Regions from separate parts of the Homo sapiens genome. Here region 2 is linked to region 1. Evidence: fine-mapped expression QTL. Tissue or cell type: skeletal muscle. Region 1 holds a variant in brackets; the other region holds the start of a gene. All regions are shown on one strand. Distances are from middle to middle.

Region 1 (5,145 bases):
GTGAGGTGCAGTGATTGGCCAGCCTGGATCACATGCACATCTCTGGAACCAACCACCTGCTCTCAAAAGCACTAGTGGGTGCCTCGAGGAGTACTGGGGTCCCCCCTAAGAAGAAGGAGGAAGGATGCTGGGGAGGCAGAAATGAAGGGTGTTTACCTTGGCATCTGATTGCATAACGTTCTGTTATGCAGTATCAAGATGTGCTTGGTGAGCAGTTAAGTGAGTTACAGGCGCTGCTCTTTGTGGGGAACAGCACATCCTGAAGTGAAAATCCATGTTCCCTGCACTTGGCCAGCATGGCCTAAGCCTGACCATCCCTGATTGGAGAGGGTGGGAGAGCCCTGGGTTTCTGCTAAGTTCCAGGCAGTGATGGGGTGACTGAGGCTGTCTGTATACCCCACTGGAGATGCCTTTCTCTCCTAGGGAACTGTTTAATTATGACTGTTTTTGGTTGTAAGCCACAGAGACCCATGCCCAGGTGCTTCAACACAAAAGCATGATCATTCATGGGTGCATAGAACTGGCCAGTCCAGGAGGGCTTGCTTCAGGTAAGGCTAGATCCAGGGTCTCAACATGGAGTCTCGATTCCCCCCGCGAGTGGAGGCTGCTGTGTTTGCCCTGGGGCAGATATGACTCTGGAACTAGGTTCAATATTGACATGAGTTCCCCTAGTTACTACACAGGAGCGTCTTGGGTCTCCTTGGGGCCTGAGGACATTTCTCCTTTCCTTTCCTGGACTCCCCAAAAGGCAGCCAGTCAGGGGTCACCAACTTGAAGCCTGATCTGGCCTGCTTTTAGTGTTGCTTTTTTGCCTTTAGAATGGTTTAAAAATTGAGGCATTTCGCATCGAAATCAGGATTTCTGGCTTCCCTTAGGCATTTGGGAGCACCAGCAGAATGGGGTCACTATTGTTGCATGAAGACAACACCTCTGCACCCCTGGATGTGGCCACGCCAGTCCCTACCCCATTGACTTGCGCCCAGCCCACATTACACATCCTCATGACCTGCGTGGCAGGAGTCTCACTGACATGGCTCTGTCAGCAGTGGCTGGTACCCTTGTCTCCTGGCCTTGCTTAGAGTTGGGGCTCATCTCTGCTGCAGTAACTGAGCCAAGGGGTGGTTTTGTGGCCACAAGAATCATCTTTATGCAGGCTCAGCAATGCAGGGCCAGGAAACTTATATCTACGCCAGCCTCAACCCCAAACCCAAGGAAGAGAGAAAGTGTCATCTTTTCAGATACATCCTTCTTCCTGCTGGGAGAGAGCCTTGCCCACCTTCCTGTTGGCTCTCTGTCCGCTTCTCAGGTATCTGAACAAAATAGATTGCTTTGCACTCTGCGTCAAGGTGTGTGTGCACATGTGTGCATAAGAGACCGACTGATTGGAAGGAGACGTTCTCAAAACTAATTGCTCCCATATCACCAGGCATTTATTGCTGAGAGCAACTTGCAATATTTTCAACTATCTTTAAGTGAATTTCTAGCTTTTCTCTTAAAAACTAGGTGTTATCCTACAAGTATGCTGGGATAAGCTGCCCTGGCAGTCTTTATACATTTATTGTCTAGCCCCAGAGAAGGACACAGAAGCCTTTTACGGAAGGAAGCTGGAACTGCCTGTTCCAGAGGCGGGTGGGGGGAGGGGAGTCTGCTATCAGCTGTCCACCCTTAACAGTGGGGGTGAGGAACCTCAGGCCCTTTCAGTTCTGCTCTTGAGAGTGCTCTCTCCCTAGGGAAAACCAGCCCAAACTGGCTTAAGCAACAAAGCAAATTCCCTGGGTCCTGTACTAGGGATGGCTGAAGGTGGGTGCTGCTTCAGATATGGCTGGATCCAGGAGCTTAATGTCCTCAGGCCTCTCAACTGCACCCAGGCCTCTTGACTCTGCATCTCTTTGCATGCTGACCTCATTCTTTCTTCCACCTGGCGGGAAAGATGGCTGCCAGCAGCCCCAAGCCTATAATTTCAGGATTCACACTCTAAGAGATGCTTTTCCATCTCAAATCTCATGGAAGGCTCTGATTGGCCCAGCTCGAGTCACATGCTTATTCCTGTGGGCCACACTGGCAAGGAACTAGGGTCCCGTGATTGACATTCCCTGCAGAAGCCGCAGCAGGATTGGGGAGGGCCATTCCCCCAATGGACAAGAGAAGCTGGACCACAGAACCAGCAGGTATCCATGGTGGCATCTGCTACGGCCGGCTCTCCTCCCATGTGGAGGTCTCGGGGACCCACGTGGAAGCATTATCAAGGTCATTCTTCTTGCCTTCGGGAGGACTGGAATTAAAAATAATCCAAGGAAGGGATTGCCAAGCTTTTGGCTTTTGAATTTCCCCTGAGCCACAAAGGCTGGAAGTGCCTTGGCTTGGGCTTCTTGCATCATTAGTTCATTAATCCATTGTGACCAGGACAGAAGCAACCCACAAGCAGCATTACTGTTGGTGTTTGGGCACCTGGGCCTTGAATTTAGGCCAGGACTCAAACCCCAGCCTTCCTTTCACTAGCTGTGTAACCTTGACCAGGTGACTTAACCTCTCTGTGCCTCAGTTTCCTCATCTGTAAAGTGAGGATAGCAGTGCCTACCTCAATAGGTTGTAGTGGGA[C/T]GAAATGAGGGAGTAGCTGTAAAGCTTTCAGCACAGCTCCCAGAACACAGAAAGCGCTCCATTAATGTCAGTGGTCATTCTGATTACTTAATGCTTCGCATCCAAAGACTCGTTTTCTTCCTGAGGTCGCCTATCCCTGTTTTTCGTTATTGCACCCAGAGAAAAGTAGGTGTCAAGAATTATTGCCCTCTGAGTTGGGTGTGCAGTCTTTCTCTTTTAGAAACTGCTTGTGTGGGCGGGGCGTGGTGGCTCATGCCTATAATCCCAACACTTTGGGAGGCTGAGGCCGGCTGATCGCTTGAGTGCAGGAGTTCAAGACCAGCCTGGGCAACATAGTGAGACCCTGTCTCTACAAAAAATTAAAAAATGAGCCAGGCGTGGTGGTGCGTGCCTATAGTCTCAGCTGCTCGGGAGGCTGAGGCAGAAGGATTGCTTGGAGGTCAAGGCTGGAGTGAGCCATGATCTCACCCCTGTACTTCATCCTGGGTGACAAAGCAAGACCCTGTCTCAAAAAAAGAAGAAAGAAGCTGCTTGTGTTTTCTGGGTAAGTCCACCCATCTGAGGGAGTGTATTCTGAGTGGTATTTCCCTTGGCAGTTAGAAAATGTTTTTTCCCAGAGGTTGAAGTATGGAGAGTTTGAGACTCTTTTTTTCTACCCTGCACTCTCTGGAATTCCCCCTCCCTGCTGTAAAATTTATTGTCCAATGAGAATAGTATAATTGTTTTCAACAAAGTCTCTTTGAGCCAGTGAAACACGATGGGTTTTTTTGTTTGCCTGATCACTTGCTCCAACCAGCAGCATTAAATGTTTTCCATTTGGATAAACTTGCATCGTCAGCTTCCTAAAACCCTGGAGGTTTCCCGTGGGCTCGTTCAAGAACTTTCCAGCTGTTGTTTAAAAGACTTTAGAGCTAGCTTGTTCAGCCTGTGGCCTGCAGGCTGCACGCGGCCCCGGACTGCTTTGAATGTGCTCCAACACGAGTTCGTAAACTTTCTTAAAATACTGAGGTTTTTTGTGTGTGTGTTTTCTTTGTTTTTTCAGCTCATCAGCTATCATTAGTGTATTTTATGTGTGGCCCAAGACAATTCTTCTTGTTCCAATGTGGTCCAGGGAAGCCAAAAGATTGGACACCCTTGCTTTAGAGCATTTGCAACCGGAGTGATATCACCCCCAAGGGGCTGCATATCTGTTTAATGCAGGTATAATTGTGTATCATATATATTGTATACATATGTAATGGATTGGATAGCATGTCCCCAAATTCATGTCCACCTAGAACCTTAGAATGTGACCTCATTTGGAAATAAGGTTTTTGCAGGTGTAATTAGTTAAGGTTCTCAAGATTGGTTATTGGGCCGTGTGAGGGAGGATCACAATTTTTATATATAAAGCAGAAATAGGCCAGGCGCAGTGGCTCACGCCTGTAATCCCAGCACTTTGGGAGGCCGAGGCGGGTGGATCACAAGGTCAGGAGATTGAGACCATCTGGCTAACATGGTGAAACCCCGTCTCTACTAAAAAATACAAAAAATTAGCCGGGCATGGTGGCGGGCGCCTGTAGTCCTAGCTACTCGGGAGGCTGAGGCAGGAGAATGCCGTGAACCCGGGAGGCGGAGCTTGCAGTGAGCCAAGATTATGTCACTGCACTCCAGCCTGGGTGACAGAGTGAGACTCCGTCTCAAAACAACAACAACAGCAACAACAACAACAGGAATGTTCTGGAGGCTGGAAGTCCGGAATCACCATGGAGGTAGGGCCCTGCTCCTTCTGAAGGCTGTAGGGGAGGACCCTTCCTTGCCTCTTCCAGTGTCTAGTGGCACCTCGTGGCTTGTGGTTGCATCACTCCAGTCTCTGCCTCCATCATCATATGGCCTTCCTCTCTCTCTGTGTCTCCTCTTCTTGTAGGGATGCCAGTCATTGGATTTAGGACCCATCCTAAGTCCAGTATAACGTCTTGAGATCCTTAACTAATTCCACCTGCAAAGATCTTACTTCCAAGCGAGGTCACATTTTAAGGTTCCGGATGGACATGAATTTTGGGGCATGCTACTCAACTTATTATGTATGCATACAATAGCTAACCAGATACACAGTTATATCTGCATTAAACAGATATGAAAATCCCTGGTGCCCATCTCTCCTGGGCTGCCCTGCCCTCCCCCTGGGGTTTTACCAAAGTGCCAGACCTGGTGTCCTGGAGAGCTGCATCCCAAAACAGCCACAGTCCTGACGTCAGAAGGTTGTGATGAACCCTGTCCAGGGTGCCACCTGTCCTTCCCGTGAGCTCTCTTGGGGCACGGAGAGTGGAGCTGGCTGCCACACAGATCCTGGGACTCTGAAAAGCCTTCGTCGTTTTGGAGCTGGTGGCTGGGGTTGTCATTTGTGAGAGCAGAGCAGGTGTGGTGTTTTGTGTGATGGCACGAGGGCCATCTGTCCACCCAGCTTCTGCTCCCCAGCCCTGCCCAGCACAGCTCGTCAGGGGAGAGGAGGCGGCTTGCACTTGCGTGTGTTCATGGGCGGTGACTCTTCCGTGGATTTCTCTGGAA
Region 2 (5,145 bases), 60 kb before region 1:
GCGGGTGGATCACCTGAGGTCAGGAGTTTGAGGCCAGCCTGGCCAACATGATGAAACCTGTCTCTACTGAAAATACAAAAATTAGCCAGGTGTGGTGGCAAGCGCCTGTAATCCCAGCTACTCGGGAGGCTGAGGCAGGAGAATTGCTTGAACCTGGGAGGCGGAGGTTGTAGTGAGCCGAGACTGCGCCACTGCACTCCAGCCTGGGCAACAGAGCAAGACTCCACGTAAAAAAAAAACCCCAAAACCCAAAAAAAGCTGGAGTGAGTGTTGGTGGCGTTATTAATTCCCTTCCCTGGGGCTGGAGGAGGAGGGAGTGGGGTTCTCACTCCCCTCCAGGCCCCAGTTTCCACTTTGAGCTCTCTGTACCCGCAGGGCTGTCACACCTCTGTCTCCCACGCAGTCATTGTCCTCCCTCAATGTTGGGCAGCAGGAGAGGCGGACTTAACGCCTTTCGTGGTGGTAACAGCAGCTAACGGTGTTAACGTTCACTTTGCTCTGTGGCGATGCCTGGGCAGAGCTGGGCATTTCCTGGATGAGCCCGGGTTAGGACAGTCATCCCTGGATCCCATGTCCCCCACCTACTCACCCTTGTGTTACTCCAGGAGCCATGGGCTATCATTTGCTGCCACCTTGCGACAGGGATGGGAACTTTGTGTCCCATTTCCGCCCTTGATTACCTAAGCCAAGAGTCTGCTGGGCACCTGCTGCCTGCCTGCCAGGTCCCCAGTAAGATCCTTCCCAACATGCGGGCAGCTGAATAAGGCAGCCACTGCCCCTGCCCTCAGGGAGCTCACAGTCTCCTGAGAGAGACCTCCAGGAACCCACAGATATATAAAACGAATAAATGCAATATTAGAATGTGATGCAGGCTAGGAAGGGAAGAGAGGTGATTTTCACAGGGTGCAGTGACATACTTGAAATATATCAGGGGTTGTCCATCTCCCTGGCCACCTCTGACTTCCCCTGCTTGAAGGGGTGAATTCACCCCACGGTGGCACGTAGTAGGTGCTCAGTAAATGTTGAATGAGTGAATACATGGATGACAGCACTGTCCAGAGCCAATTTCTTGGGTCTTGTAGGCTAAACAGATGAGGAGTGGCAAGGCAGGACTTCTGGGAGCAAGGTTGGTCCCCTGGGAGTCCTGGGAGGGCTGAAAGGGGTTAAGTGTGAGTTAAAATGAGAGTGATGGACAAATGTCACTCTCCCAAGGGAGGCCCCCTTACTCCCTGTTTTATTTATTTATTTACTTATTTATTTTGAGACCGAGTCTTGCTTTGTTGCCCAGGCTGGAGTGCAGTGGCCAGGTAACAGCTCACTGCAGCTTTGAACTTCTGGGCTCAAGGGATCCTCCTGCCTCAGCCTCTTGAGTAGCTGGGACCACAGGCACGTGCCAACACGCCTGGCTAATTTTTTTTTTTTTTTTTTGCGACGGAGCTTTGTTCTTCTTGCCCAGGCTGGAGTGCAGTGGCGCAGTCTCGGCTCACTGCAACCTCCGCCTCCTTGATTCAAGCGATTCTCCTGCCTCAGCCTCCCGAGTAGCTGAGATTACAGGTATACGCCACCATGCCCGGCTAATTTTGTATTTTAGTAGAGACGGGGTTTCCTCATATTGGCCATGCTGTTCTCGAACTCCTGACCTCAGCTGATCTGCCTGCCTTGGCCTCTCAGTGTGCTGGGATTACAGGCGTGAGCCACCGCGCCCTGCCTAAACTAAAAAAAAATTTTTTTGTAGAGATAGGTTCTTGCTATGTTACCCAGGGTGGTCTCCAACTCCTGGGTTCAAGCGGTCCTCCCGCTTCCGCCTCCTAAAGTGTTTGGATTACAGGCGTGAGACATGGCGCCCGGCCTCTTACCTGTTTTAAATTGTCCTTTCTCTCCGCTGGCTCCTTGAGCCCCTTTCCTGCTTATTTTTCTCTCGTTAGAGTTTTTCACTACCTCACACATCATATATTTGCCTTATTTATTGAGTGTCTGTCTCCCCACCGTAGTATAAACTCCACGAGGGCAGGGATTCGTGCGTGTGGCTCACCGGCGGCTCTCCAGCGCCTGGACAGGGCTGACCCCCAGCAGGCGCTCTGTGAAGGTGTGCAGAGTGGGCGAAGGTGCATGCGCGGGCCGTGGGGCGGGGACAGGTGGAGGAGCCAGTCAGACCCAAGTGCAGCGGGACGAGGGCGAGGTTAATCTGAGCAAGAAAAGCGTAAATTCTGCTTATCTACAAATGTAAACAGTACTGTCGGCCAGACGCAGGGTCCGGGGCGGGTCGGCCCGGACTCAGGGTCTGCTTGGAGGCAGAGCTAGATTAGGGCGGGGTCGTCCTGTGGCCTACCATTCCCCGAGGCTGAGGGCCTTGGAGGGCGGGGCCAGTGAAGGGGGAGGGGACTTCCTGAGGTGTGACCAATCTAGAGAAAGGACTGGGCTGAGGGCGTGGTCAAACAAGCGACATCTAAAAATAAGGGGCGGGGCTAGAACCAGGGGGAGTTCGCCTGGGGCGGGGCCAGAGTGGGGCGGGACCAGTTAGGGGGCAGGGCCAACCTGGGCGGGGCCATGGCCGGGGACGTGGGCGGGACCAGGTCAGGGGCGGGGCCAGGCCAGGATCTCCGCTGTCCCGGGTCCTGGAGCTCTCTCGGCCCGGCAGGTTTCGCTCCCGCCCCTCCGGCCTTCCACAGCTGTCCTGGCCGCAGGGTGTTCAAGGCGGGACACACCAGGCTAGAGATCCGCGATCGGGCCCCGCCTCAGGTACTGCGCTCCAGGCCAGGCGGGCGCGGGTAAGCGCTCAGCTCCCGAGCCAGGCGGGCTTCCAGGGCACTTCCCCTAGGCTGCATTCCCAAAGGCTCCCGAGGGCGAGGGTGAGCAAAGCTGCGGGGACCTGTGTGTGCATGCGTGTGCGATTGCCTCTACGTGTGTGTACGTGTGTGTGCATGTGCGCACGGGTGTGTGTGCGTGTGTGCACGTCTGTGCACACCAGGGGAATTGCGTGCGTGGAGCTGGGCAGGTGCGTGTTTCAGGGTGTGTGTGCAAAGTTGGAGGCGTGTGCAAAAGCAGTCCCGTGTGGGAGGGAAACCTGCGTGTGTACATGTGTGTGATAGAGACAGTGCCTGTGAAATGTGGTGAAGGCTGTGTGTGTATGTCAGGGTGTCTGGGAGGAAAATGGGAGGGCAGGTGCAAGGAGACTCGGGGGTGGGCTGTAGGCCAGCAAGTCTGTGGCAAGCTGCGGGGTGCATGCGTGAATAGAACCGTGGGAGTGTAAGAATTGCAAATGTGTGTGTGTCTGTGTGGGTGGCCGTAAGGCTTCTGGGGGCCCTCAGTGTGAAGGGGTGGGGGTAGAGGAAAGTTTGGGGGTGCTGACTGCTCTTGGAAGGCTGAGCGTGGTCTGGGGCCATGGCTAATGACAGGGAAGCTGTTGGGGCTTGGCCTGGAGTAATTTGGGGGGAATATCAGCCTTCTCAATTTGAAGGCTGGGGAGCTGTGTGGGTGGGGCCAGGGGCTGCCCCTTACACTTGGTGGGTGGTGTCCCTGCTTCCCGAGGTGGGAGCTGCAACCTCACCAGTCACTCCTCGCCCCAGGCTCTGTGCACACCCCTGCCTGGTGACCTCCATTGGTGCTCCAGCGTGAACATGGTGCAAAGATACCAGTCTCCTGTCCGAGTCTACAAGTACCCGTTTGAGCTGGTCATGGCGGTGAGTGACTCCTGATTCTTGGGCCCCCATGTGACAGTTGGAGGGGCTTGAGATCAGCTATGGCGGTAGGAAGACGGAGCTCCTTAGACTCCCAGATCAGAAGGAATTAGTGAGTTACTCAGCTGACCTGGTGGGTTTAACTTCTATCCAGTGACCTCTCTGTCCAACCATCCTATCCTCGGCCCAGTGACCAAAACACAAAGTCTTTCTTCCTTCTCCTTGTTGAAGCTGACCTGCTCCCTTACTTTAGACTCTCCTGATAGAAAACAAAGGTATCAGGGGCCAAGCCACTGCTGTCATTTCATATAATGGCATATCACAGTGATAAATGGAATGGTGGTGATAATGACAACAGCTGTTTATTGAATGTTTACAGCACTGTCTTAACAGATGATGTTTCTTCCAATTCCCGATAGCTGTTATTTTCCCATGTAACCTCCATGAAACTGAGGCTTTGACAGGTGAAGGGATGACACTAAGTTCTGTATCTACGCAGAGGTGGAGTCGGGGCTGAGATCCCCACAAAGGAGACTCTAGAACCTCACATTTGACCACAGAGCCCTCCTTCTGCTCACAGACCCCCTTCCCTCCCCTTTAAGGAAGCTGACACTGGGACGAGAGAGAGAATGAGTGGGTAGGTTTGCTTTGTGATGTACTCTGTGTTGTGCAGCAAGTCAGTTGGAGGCCTAGAATTGGCTGCCAGATCCTTGGCCCCCAGGATCACTGGTCTTTTCACCCTGGGGGCAGAAGCTGGACATAGGTGGATGTGGAATTCCTTCTTGGCTGCATCCCTCTGCCTCTGAGCACTTCACTTCCCTGCTCAGTAACATGGGGACAATGCTACAAGGTTGCGGGGAGGAGTAAATGAGATAGTTCTTGGTGCTCCTTGCTGTGTGCCGGGCACACAGTAGGAGCTCACAAAATATGCTGTCGCTGTTATTACACCGAAGTCTTGTAAATTAATGTATTGAAAGTGTAAGAAACATTAGCATCCACCCCCATCTGTCCCACCCCAGCACTGACTGCTTAACCCCAGCCTTCTATCCAGGGACTTTCATATCTCTTGGTGGCTGTGTGTGCCTGTGTGTCCAGTCCTGTCTTATTCTATGAATCTACATGCGTATATGTTTATTGTCACACAGAGGATTTAAAAGCATCACCAAAATCATCCACATACCTTGTGCTGTTACAGGCAGATGGTTCTAGGACAGCAAAGAGGCAGGAACTGGCTTAGGGTCATATTCTAGCTCCCCAATTGACGAGCTGAGTGACTGTGGGGCAAGTCACTTCACCTCCATGAGCCTCCACTCCCCATCACCAATGGGAATCTCCTGGCTTCCAAATCCTGGTGTCATGCTGTGGATTAAATGAGTCAATGTGTATAAAGCTCCTGGTACGGGGCTGACGCAGATCAAATGCTCACTGAGATCCAGCTATGATCGTTACTGTTTTTGCAAGTGCCTGA

The links. PIP is the estimated chance that this variant, and not a neighbour inherited with it, causes the effect.
Region 2: SEC14L5 starts here. The variant in region 1 is fine-mapped to the expression of SEC14L5 in skeletal muscle (GTEx, PIP 0.97).

The regions. Positions count from the first base shown.
Region 1 is chr16:5,015,553-5,020,697 of GRCh38, forward strand. SEC14L5 (SEC14 like lipid binding 5) reads left to right here. Exons shown (of 16, transcript NM_014692.2): 16 at 1-3,605. Among named protein-coding and RNA genes, the nearest start is that of NAGPA-AS1, 16 kb to the right of the region's middle. The variant C/T (reference allele first, on the strand shown) is at 2,599.
Region 2 is chr16:4,955,707-4,960,851 of GRCh38, forward strand. It overlaps SEC14L5 (SEC14 like lipid binding 5), which reads left to right and starts at 2,624. Exons shown (of 16, transcript NM_014692.2): 1 at 2,624-2,739; 2 at 3,567-3,680. The coding sequence starts at 3,618. RefSeq lists silencers at 2,509-2,718, 2,517-2,812 and an enhancer at 2,616-3,151.